Regions from separate parts of the Homo sapiens genome. Here all the other regions are linked to region 4. Evidence: fine-mapped expression QTL. A gene starts in region 4. Each other region holds a variant in brackets. All regions are shown on one strand. Distances are between the middles of the regions.

Region 1 (7,732 bases), 320 kb before region 4:
CTAAAATCAGAGCAGAACTGAAGGAAATAGAGACACAAAAAAACCCTTCAAAAAAATCAATGAATCCAGGAGCTGTTTTTTTTGAAAAGATCAACAAAACTGATAGACCACTAGCAAGACTAATAAAGAAGAAAAGAGAGAAGAATCAAATAGACACAATAAAAAATGATAAACGGGATATCACCACCGATCCCACAGAAATACAAACTACCATCAGAGAATACTATAAACACCTCTATGCAAATAAACTAGAAAATCTAGAAGAAATGGATAAATTGCTCGACACATACCCTCTCCCAAGACTAAACCAGGAAGAAGTTGAACCCTTGAACAGACCAATAACAGGGTCTGAAATTGAAGCAATAATTAATAGCCTACCAACTAAAAAAAGTCCAGGACCACATGGATTCACAGCCGAACTCTACCAAAAGTACAAAGAGGAGCTGGTACCATCTTTCTGAAATTATTCCAATCAATAGAAAAAGAGGGAATCCTCCCTAACTCATTTTATGAGGCCAGCATCATCCTGATACCAAAGCCTGGCAGAGACACAACAAAAAAAGAGAATTTTAGACCAATATCCCTGATCAACATCGATGCAAAAATCCTCAATAAAATACTGGCAAACCGAATCCAGCAGCACATCAAAAAGCTTATCCACCATGATCAAGTGGGCTTCATCCCTGGGAAGCAAGGCTGGTTCAATATACGCAAATCAATAAATGTAATCCAGCATATTAAACAGAGCCAAAGACAAAAACCACATGATTATCTCAATAGATGCAGAAAAGGCCTTTGACAAAATTCAACAACCCTTCGTGCTAAAAGCTCTCAATAAACTAGGTATTGATGGGACATATCTCAAAATAATAAGAGCTATCTATGACAAACCCACAGCCAATATCATAGTGAATGGACAAAAACTGGAAGCATTCCCTTTGAAAACTGGCACAAGACAAGGATGCCCTCTCTCACCACTCCTATTCAACAGAGTGTTGGAAGTTCTGGCCAGGGCAATCAGGCAGGAGAAGGAAATAAAGGGTATTCAATTAGGGAAAGAGGAAGTCAAATTGTCCTTGTTTGCAGATGACATGATTGTATATCTAGAAAACCCCACTGTCTCAGCCCAAAATCTCCTTAAGCTGATAGGCAACTTCAGCAAAGTCTCAGGATACGAAATCAATGTGCAAAAATCACAAGCATTCTTATACACCAATAACAGACAAACAGAGAGCCAAATCATGAGTGAACTCCCATTCACGTTTGCTTCAAAGAGAATAAAATACCTAGGAATACAACTACAAGGGATGTGAAAGACCTCTTCAAGGAGAACTACAAACCACTACTCAATGAAATAAAAGAGGATACAAACACATAGAACATTCCATGCTCATGGGTAGGAAGAATCAATATCATGAAAATGGCCATACTGCCCAAGGTAATTTATAGATTCAATGCCATCCCCATCAAGCTACCAATGACTTTCTTCACAGAATTGGAAAAAACTACTTTAAAGTTCATATGGAACCAAGAAAGAGCCCGCATTGCCAAGTCAATCCTAAGCCAAAAGAACAAAGCTGGAGGCATCACGCTACCTGACTTCAAACTATACTACAAGGCTACAGTAACCAAAACAGCATGGTACTGGTACCAAAACAGAGATATAGACCAATGGAACAGAACAGAGCCCTCAGAAATAATGCCACATATCTACAACCATCTGATCTTTGACAAACCTGACAAAAACAAGCAATGGGGAAAGGACTCCCTATTTAATAAATGGTGCTGGGAAAACTGGCTAGCCATATGTAGAAAGCTGAAACTGGATCCCTTCCTTACACCTTATACAAAAATTAATTCAAGACGGACTAAAGACTTAAATGTTAGATCTAAAATCATAAAAACCCTAGAAGAAAACCTAGGCATTACCATTCAGGACATAGGCATGGGCAAGGACTTCATGTCTAAAACACCAAAAGCAATGGCAACAAAAGCCATAATTGACAAATGGGATCTAATTAAACTAAAGAGCTTCTGAACAGCAAAAGAAACTACCATCAGAGTAAACAGGCAACCTACAGAATGGGAGAAAATTTTTGCAATCTACTCATCTGACAAAGGGCTAATATCCAGAATCTACAATGAACTCCAACAAATTTGCAAGAAAAAAAACAAACAACCCCATCAAAAAGTGGGCAAAGGATATGAACAGACACTTCTCAAAAGAAGACATTTATGCAGCCAAAAGACACATGAAAAAATGCTCATCATCACTGGCCATCAGAGAAATGCAAATCAAAACCACAGTGAGATACCATCTCACACCAGTTAGAATGGTGATCATTAAAAAGTCAGGAGACAACAGGTGCTGGAGAGGATGTGGAGAAATAGGAACACTTTTACACTGTTGGTGGGACTGTAAACTAGTTCAACCATTGTGGAAGTCAGTGTGGTGATTCCTCAGGGATCTAGAACTAGAAATACCATTTGACCCAGCCATCCCATTACTGGGTATATACCCAAAGGATTATAAATCATGATGCTATAAAGACACATGCACACATATGTTTATTGCGCCACTATTCACAATAGCAAAGACTTGGAACCAACCCAAATGTCCAACAATGATAGACTGGATTAAGAAAATGTGGCAAATATACACCATGGAATACTATGCAGCCATAAAAAATGATGACTTCATGTCCTTTGTAGGGACATGGATGAAGCTGGAAACCATCATTCTGAGCAAACTATTGCAAGGATAAAAAAACAAACACTGCATGTTCTCATGCATAGGTGGGAATTGAACAATGAGAACACATGGAAACAGGAAGGGGAACATCACACACCGGGGCCTGTTGTGGGGTTGGGGGAGGGTGGAGGGATAGCATTAGGAGATACACCTAATGCTAAATGATGAGTTAATGGGTGCAGCACACCAACATGGCACATGTTTACATATGTAACAAACCTGCACGTTGTGCACATATACCCTAAAACTTAAAGTATAATTTAAAAAAAAAGAAAAAGAAAAAAAAAAAAAAAGAAAACCAGCACAAAATAAGGCTTCCTTCTCTAACCACTCCTATTCAACATAGTATTGGAAGTTCTGACCAGGGCAATCACGTAAGAGAAAGAAATAAAGGGTACTCAATTAGGAAAAGAGGAAGTCAAATTGTCTCTGTTTGCAGATGACATGACTGTATATTTAGAAAACCCCATCGTCTCAGCCCAAAATCTCCTTAAGCTGATAAGCAACTTCAGCAAAGTCTAAGGATACAAAATCCATATTCAAAAATCACAAGCATTCCTATACACCAATAACAGACAAACGACAGCCAAATCATGAGTGACCTCTCACTCACGATTGCTACCAAGAGAATAAAATACCTAGGAATCCAACTTACAAGGGATGTGAAGGACCTCTTCAAGAAGAACTACAAACCACTGCTCAAGAAAATGAGAGAGGACACAAATAAATGGAACAACATTCCATGCTCATGGATAGCAGGAATCAATATCGGGAAAATGGCCATACTGCCCAAGGTAATTTACAGATTCAATGCTATGGCCATCAAGCTACCATTGACTTTCTTCACAGAATTGGAAAAAACTACTTTAAATTTCATATGGAACCAAAAAGGAGCCCACATAGCCAAGACAATCACAAGCAAAAAGAACAAAGCTGGAGGCATCACACTACCTGACTTCAAACTATACTACAAGGCTACAGTAACCAAAAGAGCATGGTACTGGTACCAAAACAGATATAGACAAATGGAACAGAACAGAGCCCTCAGAAATAACACCACACATCTAAAACCATCTGATCTTTGACAAACTTGACAAAAACAAGAAAT[G/A]GGGAAAGGATTCTCTAATTAATAAATAGTGCTAGGAAAACTACCTAGTCATATGCACAAAACTGAAACTGGACCCCTTCCTTACACTTTATACAAAAATTAACTCAAGATGGATTAACGACTTAAATGTAAAACCTAAAACCATAAAAACCCTAGAAGAAAACCTAGGCAACACCACTCAGGACATAGGCATGGGCAAAAAGTTTTGGTGAATAAAACACCAAAAGCAAGGGCAAGTAAAGCCAAAATTAACAAATGGGATCTAATTAAACTAAAGAGCTTCTGCACAGCAAAAGAACCTATCATCAGAGTGAACAGGCAACCTACAGAATGGCAGAAAATTTTTGCATTCTATCCATATGACAAAGGGCTAATATCCAGAATCTACAAAGAACTATAACAAATTTACAAGAAAAAAACAAACCACTCCATCAACAGGTGGGAGATAGGAACAGATACTTCTCAAAAGAAGACATTTATGCGGCCAAAAAACATTGAAAAAAAGCTCACCATCACTGATCACTAGAGAAATGCAAATCAAAACCACAATGAGGTACCATCTCACGCCAGTTAGAACGGTGATCATTAAAAAGGCAGGAAACAGATGTCAGAGATGATGTGGAGAAATAGGAATGCTTTTACACTGTTGGTGGGAGTATAAATTAGTTCAACCATTGTGGAAGATACTGTAGCGATTCCTCAAGGATCTAGAAGCAGAAATAGCATTTGACCCAGCAATCCCATTACTGGGTATACACACAAAGGATTATACATCTTTCTACTATAAAGGTGCATTCACACGTATGTTTATTGCGGCGCTATTCACAATAACGAAGACTTGGAACTAACCAAAATGCCCACAAATGATAGACTGGATAAAGAAAATGTGATACATATACACCATGGAATAATATGCAACCATAAAAAAGGATGAGTTAATGTCATTTGCAGGGACAGGGATGAAGCTGGACACCATCATTCTCAGCAACTAACACAAGAACAGAAAACCAAACACCTCATGTTCTTACTCATGAGTGGGAGATGAACAATGAGAACACATGGACACAGGGAGGGGAACATCACACATCAGGGCCTGTCGGTGGGTGGGGGCTAGAGGAGAGATAGCATTAGGAGAAACACCTAATGTAGATGATGGGTTGATGGATGCAGAAACCACTATGGCACATGTATACCTATGTAACAAAACTGCACGTTCTGCTCATGTGCCCCAGAACTTAAAGTATAATCTAAAAAAATTAGCCTGGTGTAGTAGCAAGCACCTGATTCTGGTGCATGCACCTGATATAGTAGCTGCAGTCCCAGCTACTAGGTCAAGGCTGCAGTGAACCCCGATTGCACCCCTGCATTCCAGCCTGGGTGATTGAGAGAGAACCTGTTTCAAAAAAAAAATGAATTGTATAAACAACTAATGTCTATAAACTTGATAACGTAGACGAAATGAACCAATTCCTAGGAAGATACAATCCAACAAAACACACCTAAGTGGAAATATGTATTCTGAATAGGACTGTATTTATTAAAGAAATTAAATAACCTTCTTCCCAAACAGAAAGCACCCATCCCAGATGAGGTCACTGTTGAGTTCCACCAAACTCACCAGTAACTATAAGAATCACACCAATTCTCCATAATGTCTTTTAGAAAATAGAAGCAGAGGTACTACTTCCTAACTCATTCTGAGGCCAGGATTCCCCTAAAACCAAAGCCAAACAAAGATATTAAAAGAAAGGAATTCTAAAATCAGTATGTCTCAGGAACATAGATGCAAAATCCTCAAAAAAAGAAAAACCCAAAAATAACAAATCAAGCGCAACGATATGTAAAAAGAATTGTATACCACAACCAAGAGGGATTTATCCCCAGTACACAAGACTGTTATAAACATTTGAAAATCAATTAATGTAATCACCACATCAACAGGCTAAAGAAAAAAATCATAAATTTTATCAGTAGATACAGAAAAAGCATTTGGCAGAACCCAACACCATTCACAGTGAAGAGTCTCAGCAAACTCGGAATAAAGGGTACTTTCTCAACTTGATAAAGAACATCAGCCGGGCGCGGTGGCTCACGCCTGTAATCCCAGCACTTTGGGAGGCTGAGGCGGGCGGATCACGAAGTCAGGAGATCGAGACCATCCTGGCTAATATGGTGAAACCCCATCTCTACTAAAAATACAAAAAATTAGCCGGGCGTGGTGGCCAGTGCCTGTAGTCCCAGCTACTCGGGAGGCTGAGGCAGGAGAATGGCGTGAACCCGGGAGGCTGAGCTTGCAGTGAGCTGAGATCGCGCCACTGCACTGCAGGCTGGGAGAGAGAGCGAGACCCCGTCTCAAAAAAAAAAAAAAAAAAAAAAAAAAAAAAATCTGCATCTGCAAAAGTCTACAACAAGCACCCTATTTAATTATGAGAAACTGGAAGGCTCCCCAGTAGGATCAGGAACAGGGCAGGAACATCCCTCTCACCACTACTGTTCATCATCACACTGAAGATCCCAGCTAACACAATAAAGCAAGGAAAGGAAAGACGAGGCACACGCATTGGGAAGAGATTAAAAATCTGTCTTTGTTTACAGATGACAATTGTCTGTAGAAAATACCAAAGAAACAACAACAACAAAAAAACACTCATGGAACCAAAAGCAATTACAGCTAGGTTGCAGGATAAAAAGTTAATATGAAAAATCAATTGCTTTCTTACATAGAAGCCATTAACAATTGGAATCTGAAATTTCAAAACATCTTTAATGCAACTGCAATAAAAATCCCAGCAAGTTACCTTGTGACTGTTGACAAACGGATTCTAAAGTTTATATGGAGAGGCAAAGACCCAGAACAGCCAACAAAATAGGGAGGGAGGAAAACAAAGTCAGAGGAGTGACACTTCCCACCTTCGAGTCTGACTCTAACACCACAGCAATCAGGATGGTGTGTGATTTGCTAAATAACAGACCAGATCAATGAAACAGAATTGAGAACCCAGAAACAGACCCACATGAATGTAGTCAACTGATCTTTGACAAAGGAACAAATGCAAGTCAGTGCTGAAAAGATCGTTTTTTAAACAAATAGTGCTAGAACAGCTGGACAGCCACAGACAAAAAAAAAGAATCTAGATTTAGACTTTAGACCTTTCACAAAGTCTTATTAACAATGGATCATGGCCTGGCTGGCACAGTGGTTCACTCCTGTAATCCCAGCACTTTGGGAGTTTGAGGTGGGAGAATCACTTGAGCCCAGGAATGTGAGACCAGCTTGGGCAACATAGAGACACCCTGACTCTACAAAAAATAAATACAATTAGCCAGGTGTGGTGGCGGCACCTATAGTCCCAGCTACTTGGGAGGCTGAAGCAGGAGGATCGCTTGAGCCCAGGAGGTCGATGCTACAGTGAGCCAAGATCACACCACTGTACTCCAGCATGGATGACAAAGCAAGACCCTGTCTCAAAAAAATAAAAAGTAAAAATATAGAAAATTTTAAAATAAAAAATAGATCATAGACCTAAATGTAAAATGCAAAGCTATAAAACTTCCAGAAGATAACATAGGAGAACATCTAGGTGACCTCTAGTTTGGTGGTGATCTTTTAGATACAACATCAAAGGCATGATCCATTAACGAAAGGATTGATAAGTTCGAATTCATTAAAATTTTAAAACCCATCTATTCATTTGAAAGACTGTGTTCAGAAAATGAATTGACAAACCACAGACTGGGAGAAAATATTTGCAAAACATTTATCTAATAAAAGACTGGCATCCAAAATATACAAACAGCTCTTAAAACTCAACAGTAAGAAAACAAATAACCGAATTTAAAAATTGGCAAAGAGGCATGGTCGCTCATGCCTG
Region 2 (7,732 bases), 110 kb after region 4:
CTCAGGCTCCTGAGTACCTGGGATTACAGGCACCTGCCACCATGCCCAGCTAATTTTTGTATATTTAGTAGAGATGGGGTTTCACCATGTTGGCCAGGCTGTTCTTGAACTCCTGACCTCAGGTGATCCACCTGCCTTGGCCTCCCAAAGTGCTGGGATTACAGGCGTGAGCCACCGCGCCCAGCCTACTTTCTTGCTCAGGTTTTTCCAGTGTTGGCCACAGGGAGCCCTTTCTGCCGGCCTCCGGGGTCTGTTCACAGCTGCCTCTTTGGGCACAGCCTGGTTTTCTGGCACTGCAGGACACCCAGGCTCATCTGTGCGTTCCCTGCTCCAGTCCTAGACCCATTTCTCCAAGGACCCCTGGTTCCTTTTACTGGAGGGTGGGATTAGAAGCCAAGATCTGGGTGCCGCTGTGTTTATGCAAATGAATATCTCAAGATATGTGATGCCAGTCGGATCACCCCTACTCCCTCAGGGCAGAATGCGGAGAACTGAGCACCTGGAAAGACATCGAGGTCGCCCACTGCCTGTGCCTGGAAGTCCTGGGCTTGCCCCTCTTGGAGGAAGTCAGGGTTCCGCCCTTTCGTCGCTTTTTAAGAATCCGTGCATGTGGCAGTGGAGGCAGCGAATGCTCAGCACGGAGAGGGCCGTGGTTGGAGCTCTTCGCCTGAGTCGTTTCATTTGACAGCTGTGAGGATGACACAAAACAAGGAACGGGAAGACACCAGGAGGGTACAGAGTCATTTGCCGAGGTATTGATTCTGTGAAAAAATTAAATTTTCCTAGAGCCATTTGGAAATGCATTTCATACGTTGTCGGCATCCCACTTCTCTGTCCCTTAGTGCTTTGGTTTTTTCCCAAGAACAAGGAGCAGAGTGTTCCCTTGTGTTTCCACAGCACAGCTCTTAAAGTCAAGGGACCCGACCGTCACACAGCAGCGTGATCTGCAGTCCATATGCTAACCTTGCCAGTCATCCCGATAATGTCCCTGGAGGCGTTCCCCAGCTGGAGTCCAGGATGCGGTTTGGGCTCACGTGTTGGGTTTAGTTGCCACAGCTTTACTTCTCTGGAAGACCCTTCTTGGTCATTAGTGACGCGGGTAATTTTGGAGAGCCCAGGCCAGCTGTTCCACAGAGCAGTTCTCCTTCCGGGACCTGCCCAGGGGTCTCCTGACTCCATCGGGGCTGCACGTCCTGGGTGTGTGATGGCATGTGTATTCTGAGAGCTCAGTTACAGAAAGAATGAGTTTGACATTCACAGGATTATGAAATACGGGGCTTCGGGGTGGAAGTGAGGCTTTTTAAATAAATCAAATAGCTGCTAAAAATGACTATCAGTTCAACAGCTTCTGTGGCCACCTCTTGAGAATCGTTAGATAAAAATTGCTGGTGCCCAGCTGAAGAAGTTATCTTCCTGGGAGATGCTGAGCCCAAGAGAGTAAAGGTTGTGTCTGTGGGAGTGTAAATGGTGGAAATTTGACTCAGCATGAAAAAAAACAATAGTTCCTCAAACTAACAATGTTAGGAGTCATTGGCTTCCAAAATGGAGTCAAGGGCTAACAAGAGTGAGACAAACATTTTTTGCAGACTAACTCATTCCTGCTTATTACCTGGAGAATGTGCTAGTGTGTTCAGCTCATATGAGACATAGAAGGATTTTGCATTTTACAAAAGTAAGTAAAACTGCCCATAGACTAATTTTTATGCTTGATTTTAGCCAAAGGGAGAGAAGTGATCATATCCCATTTTTAAGAAATAATTTTGAAGCCAATTAATTTCTTTCAACTCTACCTTCTCAGGCCAGAATGAAATTGTGTAAGGTTAGAAAATGAGCCCAAGACCCCGTACTGGGAACCACGTTATTTTTCAAGCCTCGGAAGGACATGTTGGAGGAAGTGCTGCTTCGTGCAGAGATAGAGAGACCCAGGAACAGAGGCACCATTTATTTTGTAGGATTAAGTAGACCTCACTTTATGTTAAATGGATATGGAACAGTGAGATGTACTGCAGATAAACGAAGAGGCATTTATACCATTTATTAAAAAATTGGCTACTTTCTAAAGGATTCACACAAAGTTTCTTTACTGTACAAACATTAAGCCAAGACCTATTCCTTATACTGTATCACAGCTGCACTTTCATTTTTGGAAAAGGAGGATCATTCTGTGTGTGTTTCACTGGCTGAGAGTGAAAATATGCACCATGGACAGGTCATGTATGGACCACACCAGCCTCACTCCATGGGTGACAAATATGTGGCTGATGGCAGAGCGTGCATTTTTTTTTTCTTTTTTCTTTCTTTCTTTTTTTTTTTTTTTTTTTGGTGAGATGGTGTCTTACTCAGTTGCCCAGGCTGGAGTGCAATGGCATGATTGATCTCGGCTCACTGCAACCTGCACCTCCTGGGTTCAAGCCATTTTCCTGCCTCAGCCTCCCAGGTAGCTGGGACTGTATGTGCCCGCCACCACGCCTGGCTGATTTTCATGTTTTTAGTAGAGATGGGGTTTTGCCGTGCTGGCCAGGCTGGTCTCGAACTCCTGACCTCAAATGATCTGCTCGCCTCGGCCTCCCAAAGTGCTAGGATTACACAGGTGAGCCACCGCACCTGGCCAAGCGCGCGCTGTTTTTTTCCCACAAAACCTGTAACCCAGGAGTACAGTGGGAGTCATCACGGGAACTTTCAGGACTTAGAAGATTAGAAACCATAAGCAGATTTAGAAATTAAATTTCATAAAAGCACACTTACAGTAATGATGACATTCAACATTCAACAAAGGAATATAACTGTTTTTTTTCTTTTTTTAAGACAAGTTCTTACTCTGTCAGCCAGGCTGGAGTGCAGTGGTATAATCTCAGCTCACTGCAGCCTCTGTCCCCCGAGTTCAAGCGATTCTCCTGCCTCAGCCTCCCAAGTATCTGGGACTATAGGCATCCACCACCAGGCCTGGCTAATTTTTGTATTTTTAGTAGAGACAGCGTTTCACCATGCTGGCCAGGCTGGTCTTGAACTCCTGACCTCAAGTGATCCACCTGTCTCAGCCTCCCAGTTTTAGGCCATTCTTTACCAATCCTCTTTGTGCGTGTGTGTCTACATGATTTTTTTTAAATATTTTATGTTTAATTGACAATAACTGCAGTATATATTTGTAGGGTGAACTGTGAAGTTTTGCCATATGTTTACAATGTGGAATAACTAAATCAGGCTAATTCACACATCCATCACCTCACATACTAACCATTTTTTTTGTGGTGAAAACACTGAAATTCTGCTCTTTCAGCAATTTTGAAATACACAATGCATTATTATCTATTATACTGACCACTGTGTGAGATCAGTCTCTAAGCTTAGCCTTCCTATCCCACTGAAACTTGGTACCCTGTGGCCGTCATCTCTCATTTCTCCATCTGGTCCTTGCCCCAGCCTCTGGTAACCACCATTTAACCACCATTCTACCCTCTACTTGTATGAGTCTGACGTTTTTTAGATTCCACATATGAATGAGAAGATGTGGTATTTGTCTTTCTCAGCCTGACTTATTTCACTTAGCAGAATGTCTTCCATGCTTATCCATGATGCCGCAAAGGACAGGAGTTCCTTCTTTTTTAAGGCTCACTTTGGTATTCCATTTCTACATTTCCATTATCTTTTCATCCCTTGATAGACACTGAGGTTGATTTTCTATCTTGGGTACCGTGAACAGCGCTCCATGAACACGGGGTGCAGGTTCTCTTCCACTCACTCATTTTATTTCCTTTGGGTACATAGCCAGAGGTGGGATTGCTGGGTCGTATGGTAATCCTATCTGTAGTGTTTTGAGGAATTTCCACACTGCTCCTCAGGATGGCTGTATTAATTTACATCCCCGCTAACAGAGCACAAGGGGTTCCTCTTCTGCACACCCTCATCAACATGCGGCGTCTCTTTTCGACAACAGCATCTGAACAGTTGTGTATAAGTGACAGCGCATTATAGTTTTAATTTGCATTTCCCTGATGATTATTTATATTGAGCATTTTTTTTCAGATTGGCCATTCTGATATCTTCTTTTGAGATATGTCTCTTCAGAGCCTTTGCCCCAGTTTTTAATTGAGTTCTTTCTTTTATTGTTATTGAGGTGTTTGAGTTCCTTATGTATTTTTGGATAATATTTTCTTTTCCTTTTTTTTTTTTTTTTTTTTTTGAGATAGAGTCTCACTCTGTCACCCAGGCTGGAGTGCAGTGGCACTATCTTGTCTCACTGCAACCTCCACCTCCCAGGTTCAAGTGATTCTTCTGTCTCAGCCTCA[C/T]GAGTAGCTGGGACTACAGGCACCTGCCACCACGCTTGGCTAAATTTTGTTTTTTTAGTAGAGACGGGGTTTCACCATATTGGCCAGGCTGGTCTTTAACACCTGATCTCAGGTGATCCATCCACCTCAGCGTCTTTGTTCTGTTGTTTCCTTTGCTGTGCAGAAGCTTTTCCGTTTGTTGCAATCTCATTTGTTTGTGTTTGCTTTTGTTGCCTGTGCTTTTGGGGTCATATCCAAAAACATCTTTGCCTGGACCAGTGTCATGGAGCTTTTCCCTGTTTTCTTTTAGAGCTTCACAGTTTCAGGTCTTACGTTGAAGTCTTTAATCTATTTTGAGTTGATTTTTGCCTATGGTGTCTGATAACGGCCAATTTCACCCTCTGCCTGTGGAGATCTAGTTTCCCCAACACCGTTGATTGAGGACACTGTCCTTTCTCCATTGTGTGTTCTCAGCAATTTTGTCAAAAACCGTCAACCATATGTGTGCGGGTGTGTTTCTGGGCTCCGTCTCCTGTTTCACTGTTTATCGTTTCTCTTCATGGAAGTTTTTATGTGGAGTGCGGGTCTCTCCTCCTGTCCCACTTATATGTGGTCTTATAGATGTTGAGGGATATATCCGCTCTGTCTTTAGGCCTCCTCTGCACATTCACTTTTTAAAATGAGGCTGTTGGAAAGTTGGGCTTGTTCCTCATTGCTTTCAAAATTGTTTTGTCCCTCTAGGAGTAGAAAGTTGACTTTTGCACACATTGCTGGCAATAATTAACACAACTGGTCAAAGTATGTATCTCCATCACACATGTCTAGATAAAACTATAGATGACATTTGTGATTCCCATATAAAGTAAATCACCAACACCCAGGTTTACCTTTGTCTATCGGGCACACGCGCACCACAGCACACAGGAGGTGACTCAGTGTGGAGCCCTTGGCTGGCAGTCTGCGATCTGTCGAGTCAAGTCCAGCCGATTTCCCTGGTGCTGAGATGCCCCTGCTGGCCGCTCCAGCTTTCAAGCACAGTGTGGCCTGGGGCAGGTGGGCTGGATGTTGGCCAGTCACACGGGCCTCTGAGCTTTCTTCTGAGACTCTCGGGCTGAAAGCATGGGCCACCTGGGGTGGGTTTTTTTTTTGGTTGTTGTTGTTTTGTTTTTTGTTTTTTCTTTTTTTGACAGAGTCTCACTCTGTTGCCTAGGCTGGAGTGCATGATCTCGGCTCACTGCAACCTCTGCCTCCTGGGTTCAAGCGATTCTTCTGCCTCAGCTTCCCAAGTAGCTGGGATTACAGGGCCCGCCCCCTCCCCCCCACATCTGGCTAGTTTTTTGTATTTTTAGTAGAGACGGGGTTTCACCATGTTGGCCAGGCTGGTCTTGAACTCCTGACCTCAGGTGATCCACCTGCCTACAGCTCCCAAAGTGCTGGGATTATAGGCGTGAGGGTGTTTTTTAAAACACACTTGCTTCCCTTAGATCACCTTTGATGCCTACCTTGTTAGAAAAGGAACTCTGTTTAAAAGCCTTCCCGAGGCTGGTTCGCAGTGGCTTGGAGTTTTGAGCTCAACTGAGGGTGGCGGTTTATGGGAGAGCTCTCAGTGGCTTCTCTGTGTCTTCAAAGGATTCGGCCAGATCCTTTCCTGTGGACGCTGCCTCTCACCCGGTTTTTGTCTGCCCCACTTGGGAGTCATGCTATAAGGCAGTCGTGCCCTGAAATGCTCTCATTCTCAGCCTTTAAAACATTCTTATGACTAAATTCAGTGAACCTGGAGAAAAGTCCTCCAACCTGCTTCACTCTGCTCCAGGCCCTGTGAAGCCTCTAGATGTCACTGGGAGAACAGACATGGAGCGCCTCCCCTGCCGCCAAGCCAGATCCATCTTTTTGATGCAAACACATCACTTAGTGACTGGAAGATTATTAAAGGCATTATACTTACCCCAGTGACAAGGACAGGTCCAGCAAATTACAGTTTCCAGGAAATAGCAGGTCATTTTGAAGGCAATGATATAGCTTCTTAATCTGCACATGATACACATTAGGAGGGATAAAACGTATCTTTTGAGATATTACAAGGCTCTTATTACATCAGTGAAGTCATAAAAATGTGTGATCTATCTATACATTAAGTTTGGGTATGAATTTTAAATATTCCATGTTTCAAAGAGGCATGTCAAAGGGAGCGGGCTCACTCATTTTTCAAAGCAGTAAATTACAGCATTGAAATATTTCACATGAAGCATGTGATACTGCAAAGCTATCACAGGGTGAGGCAGGGCCTGAGAAAGGAGTTTCTGGGTCTTCAGGGAGCTGTGTTCACCCTGGTGTCCTGATCTGCCCTTGAGCTTTTTCTCCATGGTGGTTCAGCCTCGCAATTTTCATAAAGACTTCCTCATGTTTGGGAAAAAGCAGTGGTTGGGAGCCATTAGAAACTTCTCTTATGCTTTGTTTTGTAGAGGCTAAACATGGTCAACACTTGTGATTTTTATTTTTTTAATTGCCTTTTTGAGCTGCAGTTAAACAATGAATGGAAGGAAAGATTGCATATAATAGTCCCATTTTTCACTGGCTTAAAAATAGATGAATATCTTATTTAGACATCATTTTACCTGTAGGATGATGACCATATTTTTTAAAGGGGGGCATATTTAAAAGGTATATTGAAGGGGAATAATAAAAGGGAATATTAAAAAGGTACATTAAAATGAAAATTAAAATAAAAGATCCCAAACTGATTGAACTTTATGACACCAAAAGAAACACCCAGCCCCTCACTGCCTCTGCACTGCTTTAATTCTTTGCTTCCACTCTGGTTCATCATTCACATTCCTTCATATCTGCTTTTATGTTACTAAGATGTGAGTCTGCTTCTCAGTAACACAAACATAATTTCTTTTAATATATTGCTGTCAAAAAGCAATGAACCCGGAGTGTACCAGGAAGAACACAGAATCCAGCTTTGGTCCTGGCTCTGTTGGAGGCTTGGCTCTGCACCTGATAGGGTTCAGCTTTGTGTCCCCACCCAAATCTCATCTTGAACTGTCATCCCCAGAATCCCCACAGTCCCCACATGTCAAGACAGGGACCAGGTGGAGGTGATTGAATCATGGGGTTGGTTTCCCCCATGCTGTTCTCCTGATAGTGAGTTCTCATGAGATCTGATGATTTTACAAGGGGCTCTTCCCCCTTCACTCAGCACTTCTTCCTGCTGCCTGGTGAAGAAGGCACCTTGCTTCCCCTTTCCCTTCCGCCATGATTGTAAGTGTCCTGAGGCTTCCCCAACCATGATGAACTGTGAGGCAATTAAACCTTTTTCCTTTATAAATTACCCAGTCTCAGGCAGTCCTCATAGCAGTATGAAAACAGACAAATACCACACCCTTGGACAAACTGCTTTTCTTTTTCTGTGCCTCAGTTTTCTTCTCTGTAAAAGTTGGGTCAGCAGTTCTCAAATCGAGCTG
Region 3 (5,000 bases), 80 kb after region 4:
TGTTAGTGAAACAGACGAAACCCCTGCTTCACAGAGATTCAGTCCCAGTGCTGTCGAGAACGATGCCATTTCCCATAGCGGATGTGGAAATTCTAAGCTGTGTTGCACTGTTACTCTAGCAGAGCTGATGACACTGTTGAATCATTTTCATTCTTTTGTCATCAACATCACTCTTCTTGAATTCACATGGGATGTGAACATCGAATTGTGAGACTTGTATAATCTCATGGGATTCAAACATTCTGCCATGCTGAATCAGAATTCTTCCTCGTCCCTCAGACCAATGCCGGAGCATGTGAATTGGAATGCTCATTTATCTTCGGAGTTCCGCAAAGCTTAGTTTCTAGCCAGCGATTGAATTGTGAGGAATTTCAGTATAGGGAAGGTCCTCACCTCTAGTGAGCATTTTTGTGTTAAGATTTCATTTTCTTTGTGTCCCTGTACCTGAAATGGGATGCTGTTAAAAGAGCAGCTGCCAACCAGCTTTACAGACCCCTCAGAATATTCTCTATTATTCAGAAATCCCCATATATATTGCTTAAGACTTGTCTTTGTTAATGACATTTCATATAGACCAAAAGATCTTTATGCCTAGTCTAATTTCATGGACTAGAATGACGAGAATCATTTGTCCTTCTGTGAGCAACTGTGAGGACTTAATTTTCTTAGAAGCTGGAATTTAGAAATGTGTTTGACGTTATTGGGAGCGACAGCTTTTCCATAAGCCTTCGTCTGAGACTGTCTATAGTAAAAACTAAGGTTTTTTGAGGGGGGGGCTCTGTGATTTAAGATTCTAATAGACTTTCTTTTTCTCATGAGTCAGAATGATTTACACACTAAACTTAAGCTTTCTACCTCACAGGTTGCAAACACCAAGAAAGAAACCGTTTTCAAATGGCTCAAGGATGATGTTCTGTATGAAACGGAGACACTGCCTAACCTGGAGAGGGGAATCTGTGAGCTCCTCATCCCAAAGGTATCAGGCATTGAGTAACACAAGAAAGCAAAACAAAAACGGCACTTTCAAATAACTCGTAAATTCTACAATCCTCTAATTTGCATCCTGAATTTCGGTGGTTTGCAAAGAAAATGTATTAGAGTTTATTACGTTTTCTAAGATTGCAGTATTGACTTTACATAAATATGGAATGTGTTTTCTTTGTAGTTGTCAAAGAAGGACCACGGTGAATACAAGGCAACCTTGAAAGATGACAGAGGCCAAGATGTGTCCATCCTTGAAATAGCTGGCAAAGGTAAAAGAAAACCTCCTTTGTTCTGTGAACAAGAAATTCCTTTCACCAACAGGATGGGATGTATTCTGAAGGCAGGTCTATGTCTAGCCTCAGCTATAGCACACATTGTGTCTTTAGCAGTAACACTGTAGAAAAAAACTATTTGTTCTTTGGTTGCTTTCAGAGTTTTTTCAGTGTTTTAGAATAATGTATGATATTACTCTGGGTTTATATGAAACGTCATTTCGGTCCATCATCAGAAGCCAAGCAACGCATTACTAATGCAGTTAAAATGATGGAAACACTGAGGCAGTGATTCAGTTGAATGTAGAGTTGGATTTATGTTGAGTAAAACGTTCTTGATCCTTTTTTAAAAGTGAATAGGTTAGAAGGATTTATCGCACACATAAGTCTTTTATGGATAAATATTGCCATTTTAATGATTCATTTTTCAACTGAACATCACAATTTCCTGCATCGATTTAATTAAACATTGAAAATGCTGCTTTCGGTTAAAGTTACATGTCGTAATGGTGCGTATCCCTTCTCATTTTCAGTGTATGATGATATGATTTTGGCAATGAGTAGAGTCTGTGGTAAGTAAATGCCTTTTAATTTTCAAGTCATTTGGGGTGCTGAAATCACTATTTCCTGACACGGGAAGTCACTGCTGCAAAAGAGGGCACCATGGAGCTGTGGTGCGTGTTCTGTGGGAGGCCCTGGATGGAAGGGCAGGGTGGTGATCTGCTGCCGATGAAGCTTTTTAAAGGACTTCCCTCAGTTTTGTCTGGAGTTTGAGTTTTACTTTAAGAAACTCAGGTTGGGCGTCCTGATTAGCCACTTCTTCCATCCTGTCTTAGGTTAATTGGCATGACTGCTTTGTATATAATTGCTATGAGCAGCTTTTTACATATGTTGAATAGCCGTAATGAATTTTTAAACCTCTCACTTTGCGTCGTACACATTAAACCATATGTTATCTTTACAAATAAATGCCCAGAGGTGGGATTGCTGGATCACATGTCAGTTCAGCTTGTTTTTGGAGGAAACTCCACACTCTTTTCTATAGTGGCTATATTAATTTACATGCCACCAATCATGCACAAGTGTTCCTTTCTCTGCTTGCCAGTGTTTTATCTTTTGTCTTTTTGATAATAGCCATTCTAACAGGTGTGAGATGATATCTCACTGCAGTTTTAATTTGCATTTCCCTGATGATTAGAGATGTTCAGTATTTTTCAAGTATCTGTTGGCCATTTTTCTGTCTTCTTTTGAGAAATATCTGTTCAGATCCTTTGCCCATTTTTAATGGGTTATTTGTTTTTTTCCTGTGGAGTTCAGTTCCTTATGGATTTTGAATATTAGTCCCTTAGCCAATGCATAGCTTGAATATAGTTTCTCCCAATCCATGGGTTCTTTCTTCCTTTTGTCAATTGTTTTCTTTACTGTGCAGAAGCTTTTTAGTTTTGTGCAGTACCATTTATTTACTTTTGCTTTTGTTGCCTGTATTTTTGATGTCCTATCCAAGCGATCACTGCCCAGATCCATGCTGCAAAGCATCTCCCCCACGAGCTTCCTTCCAGCGGCTTCGCAGTTTCAGGTCTTATGTTTAAGTCTTTTATCCAATTTGAGTTGATTTTTCCATGTGGCATAAGTTAAAGCGCCAATTTCACTCTTCTGCATGTGGATATTCAGTGTTTCCAGCACCACTGATTAAAGAGACTGTCTTTCCCTATTGTGTCTTCTTGGCATCTTTGTTGAAAATCAATTGACCATCAATATTTAGTTTCATTTCTGGGCTCTTTATCCTGTTCCA[T/C]TGGCCGATCTGTCTGTTCTAATGTCAGTGCCATGCTGTTTTGGTTTCTGTAACTATATATTTTGAAATCAGGAGTGCGATGCCTCCAGCTTTGTTCTTTTTCCTAAGGATTGTTTAGGCTATTAGAGGCTTTCCTAGTTGCATACGACTTTTAGGATTATTTTTCCTTTTTTTTTTTTTTTTTTTTTTGAGACGGAGTCTTTCCCTGTTGCCAGGCTGTAGTGCAGTGGGTGAATCTCGGCTCACTGCAACCTCCATCTCCTGGGTTCAAGCGATTTTCCTACCTCAGTCTCCAGAGTAGCTGGGACTACAGGCACGCATCACCACACCCAGCTAATTTTTTTGCATTTTTAGTAGAGATGGGGTTTCACCATGCTGGCCAGGATGGTCTCCATTTCCTGACATTGTGATCCGCCCGCCCGCCCACCGAGGCCTCCCTAAGTGCTGGGATTACATGCTTGAGCCACTGTGCCTGGACAAGGATTATTTTTCTATTTCTGTGAAAAACAACATCGAAATTTTGATAAGAATTGCATTCAATCTTTAGATTGCTTTGGGTAGTAAAAATGTGGCTTTACTCTTATACTCATGAAATTATTTTGTGTTAAAATATCTCATAATGTGTCCAAGGGCCACTCATGGATAATAGAACTGACCAGAAGGTCTTGAAGAGTGAGTGTTTATAAGGAAAATGCAAAAAGCAGAGTCCTCACTGTGTGCTTGTCACCTCGAAGCAGAGATGCAGCGGCTGAGGGGACATGCACATTATGTTGGGAGTTGGATAGGGACAGAGGGGACAGGCCCAGAACTTCCCATATCAATAGGGAGCCTTTATTCTCATGGGAAACTGGACGCCATGGGCTGGAGTCTCTCCCTGACATATCAGAATGGAAGAAGTGGAAGGCATGTTGTCAACACACTCACACCCACACACTCACATCCCCACACTCACACAGCAGTCACACACACACGATTTCCCACTCAGACATACACACACACTGACACACACCAGTGTACCCACACCCTACACACTCACACACTCATACATGCACACACTTACATGTGAACTCACACACTGACACACACACTCATACACACACTTACTCATATGGGCACACACTTGTGTAGACTCACACACTGATGCATACAGACTCATACACAGGAGCCCTGGGAGGCTGGGGGAGCATTGGGGGAGGCTGATACAGGCTGGGGAAGCACCGGGAGAGGCTGATGGAGGCTGGGGGAGCACTGAGGGAGGCTGATGGAGGCTGGGTGAGCACTGGGGGAGGCTGATAGAGGCTGGAGGACCACTGGGGGAGGATGGGGGAGTACTAGGAGAGGCTGATGGAGGCTGGGGGAGCACTGGGGGAGGCTGATAAAGTCTGGGGGAGCACTGGGAGAGGTTGATAGAGGCTGGAGGAGCACTGGGGGATGCTGAGGGAGCATTGAGAGAGGCTGATGGAGGCTGGGGGAGCACTGGGGGAGGCAGATAGAGGCTGGAGGAGCACTGGGGGAGGATGGGGAAGCACTGAGAGAGGCTGACGGAGGCTGGGGGAGCACTGGGAGAGGCTGATAGAGGCTGGGGGAGCTGCTTCTGGTCTGTGTGCTTTGCTCTCAGGCTGCTCCGACCCTCCCGTGTTCTGCCTGGTTAGGGTGGTGTTGGTCTCATGAGTCAGTGTCAGGGAATTTGAGCAGAGGGAAGGGGGGTCGGGTGGGGGAATATGGCTCTGCAGTGTGTTGACTTCACCCAGTTCCCAAGCTCTTTTTCAAGTTGTGATTCCTTGAAGGGTGAACTCCTGTCTCCGAGTAGAGGAAACAGAGTCCCACCTGACTGGGGAGGGGAGATGGTGGTCAGGGATCTCTGCCTTACAGATTTTCAATAACCCTCCTGTCTGCAGCCGGCCCAGATGCAGGGACCCTCCAAGTCCTGAGCTCACTCGGTTCCCTGCGCA
Region 4 (7,732 bases):
GCACAACCATAAATAGGAACAAAGACATTCTAAAGGCAGAAAAAAGGAACAAGGTTGGGTATGGTGGCTCACGCTTGTAATCCCAGCACTTTGGGAGACCGAGATGGGTGGGTCACTTGAGGACAGGAGTTCGAGACCAGCCTGTTCACCAATATGGTGAAACCTTGTCTCTACTAAAAATACCAAAAATATATATATATATATATATATATATATATATATATATATATATATATATATATATCCGGGCCTGGTGGCACACACTTGTAATACCAGCTACTTGGGAGGCTGAGGTGGGAGGCTCACTTGAACCCAAGAGTCGGAGGTTACCACTGCACTCCAGCCTGGGCGACAGAGCCAGACGCCATCTCAATCAATCAGTCATCAGTCAATAAAAATAAAGAAAAAAACTCTTTTCTTTAAAGTGGGGCTGTTTTCTGAGATTCAGGTTTTCAGGATTTGGGAATGAGAGGCAGTGCTGATGGGGGCTGATGCCCTCAAGGGAGTTTTCTGCCTCCAGATTTTCCAGTCTCCCTTCTGCGGCCTGTGCACACGTGCTCTGTGGGGACCAGACGCCTTTGTTGTTGGCCTCATCACCCCCTGGTTTGGGAGAGCACGGAGGGTGACCCCCTGCCCCTCCCTGTGCTGTGGCTGCAACTGCGAAGCCTCTTTCTGGTGAGCTGTCATCCTTTGAATCATAAAACTGAATATTTGGCCTGTTGGATGGATAATTTCTAAAATACATGGGATGGATAATTTCTAAAATACATGGATAATTTCTAAAATAATTTCTAAAAAACAGAAAATTTGTTTTCTGAGACGGAATGCATGGAAGTGAACAAAATATCTTAAGAATAATTTTATTTCTTTCAAATATCCAAACTGATTTTCCTGAATCGAATGTCAGTTTTGGCTCTGTGCAATATAACAGGGGTCCTGAACCCCAGCCTCGGGGTCCGTGGCCGGTGAGGAGCTGGGCCGCATGGCGCGGTGAATGGCGGCCACTGAGTATTCTCGCCGGAGCTCCAGCTCCTCTCAGAGCCGCGGCCTTAGATTCTCACAGGAATACAAACCCTACTGTGACCTGCACACGCGAGGGATCTAGGCTGGACGCTCCTTATGAGAATCTTATGCCTGATGATCCGAGGTGGAGCAGTTTCATCCCAAAACTATCCCCCTCTCCACCGTTCTTGGAAAAATTGTCTTCCACGAAACCGGTCCTTGTTGCCAAAACAGTTGGGGATTGTTGCTGTATAGAACATAACTTCACCCATGAATGGTCTGGCCTGGGGTTCCACAGGATTGAAGGCACGTGGTTTTAGAATGTCACTCTTTGCATTTCGATCTTCTTTTCTATGTTGTGGGAAATCCTCAGTGAGGCCAACTGTTTTCCATTCACAGGCTGCCAATTTGAGCTGTGGAAATGAGATTGCTGGACTCTTCCTTTGTCTTAGTCAGGATTCTCTTGATGGCCGATGATAGAAAGTCAGCCCAAGGAACTCCGGCAAGAAGGAGCCTGTCTGCCCCAGAGCTGGTGTGTCTGGTGGAGAATGCGGGGCCCATGCCTGGTCCCACCGCCTCCCTCCGTCTTTTGTCCCTTCTTGGCTCCAGGCTTCCTGCAGGTGCACCTCACCCAGGGAGTTTTGGAAGCTACATCCCGGGTGGGCAGGGGCAGGCATGGCTCAGGGAGATGGGGGTCTACGAGGAGGGTGGGGAGGGGTCTCCTGTCCCCAGCAGAAGGCGAAGCTCTGTCCCCATCAGGAGCCTATCTGTGTCCCGGGTCACACTCTGCTCTCTGGGTGGTGTGGCTGAAAGATCCAGGCTTTCTTAGACGCAGCACTGGATTTCTATATCACAGAAGGAGGGCACAGCCACCGTGAAATGTCAGAAAAGGAGGAGGAGTGTGCTGGCCCTTCCTTCTCTCAGGAGAGGCCCCTCCCCGGGATGAGATTGTCCCCTCCTGAGATGCTAGGACTGGGACCCAGGCGACTGAGATGCCAGGACTGGGACTCAGAGGACTGAGATGCCACCTGAGGGGACGAGGCACCATCACTGCCCCTCCAGTGTCGGCCACACTCAGAGGCAGGGGGGCAGAAGGGCTGAAGGGAAGTCCCCCAGGTCCCTGAGAAATGGATTCGCTAGAGAAGGAGATGCTGATAAACCGGAAGTAAACATTGCTTGCTCTGGTCTTGCTGTTTGCAACCCCCCCAAAATATGTGGGTTAAAACCCTAACCCCCAAAACGATGGTGTGAGGAGGTGGGGCCTTAGGGAAGTGACAAGGTCATGGAGGTGGAACCTCCCGAGTGGGATCAGTATCCTCATACAGAGGCCCCAAGAGCGGCCTGGCCCCTTGACTTGGTGAGGACTCAGGGACCGCGCCGTCCCAGAACCAGAAGGCTCTCCCCAGGCAGTGTCTGCTGGTACCTGGATCTTGGACTTCCAGTCCCCAGAACTGTGGGAAAGAAGCTCCTGTGTTTTATAAGCTACACGGTCTATGGTGTTTTGCTAAAGCAGCCTGAATAGACTAAGAAATCACTCAACAAACACTAATTAAATTAAATGCTAGGCCATCAGAATACGAAGGGGAAGAAGACAGAAACACTCGCCTCCTGATCCAGCATCCAGAACGCTCTGGGGCCCAGCAAGAGGCTGTGCTCGCGTCTTTCTCGTATCTGATCTTCGCCTCCATCCACCTGCTCGCTGGTCCTTGGCTGTGCCTCTGATACCCCAGTGTGAGAACGTGGAGTTTCTTAAGGCAATTCTCTTATCATATTTTCTCTACTTGTCACAACAAACTTACAGGAAAGTTGTTATTCCATGCGTTTTAGAGCTGGGGAGCATAGCCCCCGTGGGCTGAGCAGCTGGCCGAAGTCCTCAGCCCCTGTGGTGAGGTGCAGCTGGAGTGTGATTCTCCGGGTCCTCAGATGGGGGCATCCCCTTGAGGCCCCGCCTCTTGGCCAGGCTGCAGCCCAGGACCGTGCCAGGTGTGTGTTATCTATATTTGGACACACGCTGTGCGAAACGACGGGCACCCTGCAATTATCCGTGTGGTGTAGACGCAGTGTACGTCTGTGGTAATGGCTATAAATAAGCCCCGACTTGCCGACTAGGCACCGCTCCTCTTTTGGGTAGGCAGTTCTTGCTAAAATAGCCCTAAGATACAATCGAGTGAAGACCTGAGTCGTTCTTGAAATAAAAAAAAAAAAACGAACAAACACACGAACATGCACACACACGCTCACAAACCCAGGGGCTTGTGCACCTCCCTCCCTCCACAGCCGACCTCAACTCGGGTGTCCAGGCCTGCGAATGGCACAAATGCTCACTGAAATCCATGTCATTATTAAAGACTCATTCAGGAGTTGCAATTTGTGAGCCAGGGAACCTGTAGCTCGAAAGGATTGAAGATATGTCTGAGAATTCACACGTAAGGATTAGAACTCATGGAGGAGAGTTGCGGGGAGGGAGCGTGGGAAGTCAGTGCCCTGCCCTCTCTTTCTGGGTCGGGGGCTGAAGTGTCACACCCGGTTTCCTGGGAAAAGTGCAGTTTGGGACTCAGAAAGGACACGTTCCAGTTTTGAATCGTGATTTCCCCCGCCCTCAGTTTGAACAAGAAGCTTTTCCTCCTGAGGTCAGGCTGGTGATTTACGATGTGGGTATTGATGTGGGGAGAGGCAGGCCCAGGCGTCTATATATAGTAGCTCCTCAGACCTTAAACGGGAGGGAGGCACAGGCGCTTGCTTTGCAGGAGTCAGCTCTGCCTTCCTCGGCTGGAGTGTGGGTGGCTTGGTGAGCCGGTGGTCAGGAATTCTCTCTCCTCCTTGCAATTTTCCTTTCTGTCTGGGTAAGTGTCTTTCTCTTCTTGCCTTTTCTAATTTGTGGCTTTAAGGGGAGGACCGGTAACTTCTGCACTCACATTTTCTAAGTACCTCTACTTCAGGGTCAAGAAGAGAGAGCCAGTGCACCCCGTCGCAGGCACCCTTTACTGTGGAAAACAGAGCAATTAGTTCTGGGATCTGTATTTCTTTGACGAGGTTTTATGCTCAACTAACATTTTATTTCCCACAGCCGTGGTCTTTGCTAAGTGCCGTTTAGCACCCTGCGGCGTGTGCTTTGGGTTTTAGCCCTGGTCTCATCGTGGCCCCAGGGGGCCCCCCAGTCAGTGGACTGATGTCTGCAAGTTTCATGAGATTCTCAGAAACGAAAGCCTCCCCCGAGGAGAGGGCTGACTTATAAAGGTGTGAAATAATAAAACTGGATATTTTCTTAAGGGAAAAAAGAGTCGAGGGTCATTCAGCTTAGACCTAGCCTATATTATCCACGGTATGGGAAAGAGAACAATCCTTGTCAGGACTTGCAAGTTTTTGCCCAAAAATGACAGCGTTCTTACGGCTGTTTTCTTCTTTGTGCTGTTGGGTGTGTTGTGACCCTTCAGACTTCTTCAGCTCCACTCCGCTGATAGAGGCTGTGCCTTCTCAGGGCGTGCTCTTGAAATGCAACCTGCTGGAGAAAGACAGTGGGGCTGGGTGGTTGCACGTGGAAGGCACCGGAGGCAAACGGAAGGAAGGGGTTTGCCATCACTGGGAACACCTGGCCTTTTCTAATTCTCCATTTCACATTCCTTTCTTACTAAGTAGAAGTAAAACAGGACTCAAAGAAAGCGTGGAACAAAGATAATTTAAGGCGTTATTTAATAAACCAAGTCCCAAGCTAAAACTTGTCTTGGGAGCCAAGGGCTTAGCCACTTGTGGCACAGGCCAACGCTGCGTGTCTGGGAGTCCCTTTCCCCTCTAGAAAGCTTTAATTTGGTGTATTTATTGACTTTGACATTTTTAACTGTACAAACAATTTCCTTCATTAAGTGGAAGTCAATGTTTTGTACTTCAAACATTTTTGCAAATTAAAACCCATCCTGGTGACATGAGGAATGGGCTCCACACGTTGTTTGCAGGAAGGAATTAGGATGGGGATATCAGACACGTGGTCCCCTGCACTGGAGGAGAGGCTCGCGTTTCATCCTGGTGTCATGATTCCTAAACGTGTCAGGAGCATTCCGGGAGTGGCCGGGGAGCTGGGCTGTGGTGGAAAGTGGGCTGGACGCTGTCAGGAGAGTCAGCTGGCGCCTGGGTTCGGCCGTGGCCCTACCGGTGACCCGGGCAAGTCATATTTCCCTGGGGACGGTCTGTGCTAACAGTACAGCGTGGCGCCAGGATTATCTACACACAGGCTGTCCAAGCTGGGGGACTGTTAGCTGCCACCTCACTCAGCCCCCTGTTTTACAGCAGAGCAGGTGGAGGCCCCTGAGCTGAAGGTCAGCAGGTCCCCACTGGAGTCTCAGCCTCCCAATGCGCCTGAGCCCCAGGGACTCACATCAAAAACTACCCTGCGAGGAAAAGCTGCTTTCTTTCTCTCTCTCTTTCTTTTTTCTTTTTTTTTTTTTTGGTTGGTGTGTGTAGGGGGTATTTAACACATGTCTGAGATAGTTCCTTAAAAAGGAAAACAGCTTTCTATGTAGACAGTAGAGGGACATTGGGGAGCTGATCGGCCCAGGTCCTGTCATTTTCTTTATAGTGTCATAAATAGTACAGGTTGATCATTCCAAATCTGAAGATCAGAAATCCAGAATGCTCTAAATTCTGAAACTTTGTGAGCGCTGGTATGACTCTCAAAGGAAATGCTTACATGAGCATCTCAAGTATCCAATTTCTGGATTTGAGTTGCTCAACCAGTAAGTATAAATGCAAGTATTCCACAGTCTGAAAAACAAATCGGGAATTGGAAACTCTTCTGGTCCAAGCATTTTGGATAAGGGATGCTCCACCTGTAGGGTGCATTTGGCAAGTCCTCTCCAGGGTTCCCTCCACTCAGAAGGGCCCTGTGCTGCCAGGGCTGCAGGCACCCAGCACGTGCTGAGTCAGTGGGGATTTGCTTGCAAAGACGTCATCACACCCGGCCAGGAGGTGGTGGCCCAGGCTGGGTGAGGGACACTGGGGAAGTTCTAACATAGGAAGTCCCCCAAGGAGTGAAGAGATTGCGGAGGGGACACACATTCAGGGTGGGTGAGGCTGGACGTGCAGTCCTGCTGGTTTTCTGGGTTGGGCATGTGATTGATAAAAGTGGAGTTGAGGGCACATTGGCACTGGGAGTCAAATGCGCAGAAGACTTGAGCTTGCTACTCTCCCGAGCCAGGAGCTCTAAGGTGTTTTCATTGTTGAAATCCAAGGGTTCTGATTTAGGCTTGGCTGGCACGTTGCAAGTGACCCCATACTTGTGGAATCAACTGAGGCTGATGGATTCTGCAAAGCCTCTGACACCTCCTGATTTTGGTGGTCCTGAGCATGAAGTGAGCAGGGAATACATGTGGGGATAAACGTGGCAAAGTGCCCTGTTACCCCCATCCAAAGACTTCCCGGGGAGACTTCCACAGTAAGGTACCATTGGAGTGAGGATTGCAGGAAGTGTGCACACGTGATCCCAGCTCTGCCTTGCTAAGCACTACAAAGTGTAGCCCCTCACACATGAAGTGTTTGAAGACTTCCAGGCCCACAGGACCGGATGTCACGTCAGTGATACATAGGTTGCATTGGACAGGACGTTACAGACTGGTTGAAGGATAGCTAGTCTGTGAGCTCTCAAGACCTGAGCCGTTTCACATTCTTCCAGGTCTTAGGTCTAAGGAGGAGGATTTCCATCCAGGGCGATTCTCCTCTTATTTCAATGTAGCTCATTCTCTCCTTTGACCTAATAGGTCACATTTTGACTCTTCCCTTTACCAAGAAATACAAACACATCTGAGGTTTAACTCAACATAAGTGTAAGTAGATACTGTGATGACACATGAGCCCCTGCTGCAATAGCAGGTACTGGGGATTGCTCATGCGTCTGCTGGAGTGGAATTGCCTGGTATTCGTCAGGCTGATCCCAGAAGAACCTTGGATAGGAAACCGGATGGAAGCTGAAACGTCTTCCCCAACCTTGGTCCAACTTCATTTCAGTGAGCTCTTCCCAGCACCCTGCTGGTGAACTCCAGAGAGAGTAAATGGGTTTCTGAGCAGGAAGCGTTTCTTGAAGATCCACCTTGATTAACTCATTGGAAAATCCCAGTGAGCTGCATCTGGGGAGATTTCAAATAGTGAAGCAATACATAGATTTTCTCAGATACCTTTTCCTGTCTGCAGAATTCTTGAACCATGATAACAGCAGCAGCATAACAGAGACAGCAACCGATTTCGGTACCAGGGCCAGGGCCAGGCATGATGCAGATTCAATATGGAACGCCAGAGCTAGAGGAGCTAGAAGCTACCCCAGGCCTCATCAGAATGCTGGAGTCAGAATTCGATCCCAGGTCTACCAGACATCAAAACCTGGGCGCTTGACCTCTGCACTATGATACTGCCTTCAATATCAGGGCGGGTGGAGGAGATATGCTTTTATTTATTTATTTATTTATTTTATTTTTTATTTTTATTTTATTTTTTTTTTTGAGATGGAGTCTCGCTCTGTCACCCAGGCTGGAATGCAGTGGCGCGATCTCGGCTCACTGCAAGCTCCGCCTCCCAGGTTCACGCCATTCTCCTGCCTCAGCCTCCCGAGTAGCTGGGACTACAGGGGACCCCCACCATTCTGGCTAATTTTTTGTATTTTTTTTAGTAGAGACGGGGTTTCACCATCTTAGCCAGGGTAGTCTCAATCTCCTGACCTCGTGATCCACCCGCCTTGGCCTCCCAAAGT

What was found. PIP is the estimated chance that this variant, and not a neighbour inherited with it, causes the effect. A credible set is the group of variants that fine-mapping cannot tell apart.
Region 1: its variant is the best candidate, but not a certain one, in a credible set for the expression of MYOM2 in ovary (GTEx, PIP 0.90).
Region 2: its variant is the best candidate, but not a certain one, in a credible set for the expression of MYOM2 in tibial nerve (GTEx, PIP 0.72).
Region 3: its variant is the best candidate, but not a certain one, in a credible set for the expression of MYOM2 in thyroid (GTEx, PIP 0.52).

The regions. Positions count from the first base shown.
Region 1 is chr8:1,717,974-1,725,705 of GRCh38, forward strand. No RefSeq gene overlaps it. Among named protein-coding and RNA genes, the nearest start is that of CLN8, 42 kb to the right of the region's middle. The variant G/A (reference allele first, on the strand shown) is at 3,861.
Region 2 is chr8:2,147,776-2,155,507 of GRCh38, forward strand. No RefSeq gene overlaps it. Among named protein-coding and RNA genes, the nearest start is that of MIR7160, 75 kb to the left of the region's middle. The variant C/T (reference allele first, on the strand shown) is at 4,287.
Region 3 is chr8:2,122,390-2,127,389 of GRCh38, forward strand. It overlaps MYOM2 (myomesin 2), which reads left to right. Exons shown (of 37, transcript NM_003970.4): 29 at 863-976; 30 at 1,166-1,253; 31 at 1,790-1,828. Among named protein-coding and RNA genes, the nearest start is that of MIR7160, 48 kb to the left of the region's middle. The variant T/C (reference allele first, on the strand shown) is at 3,049.
Region 4 is chr8:2,041,324-2,049,055 of GRCh38, forward strand. MYOM2 (myomesin 2) reads left to right here and starts at 3,723. Exons shown (of 37, transcript NM_003970.4): 1 at 3,723-3,845.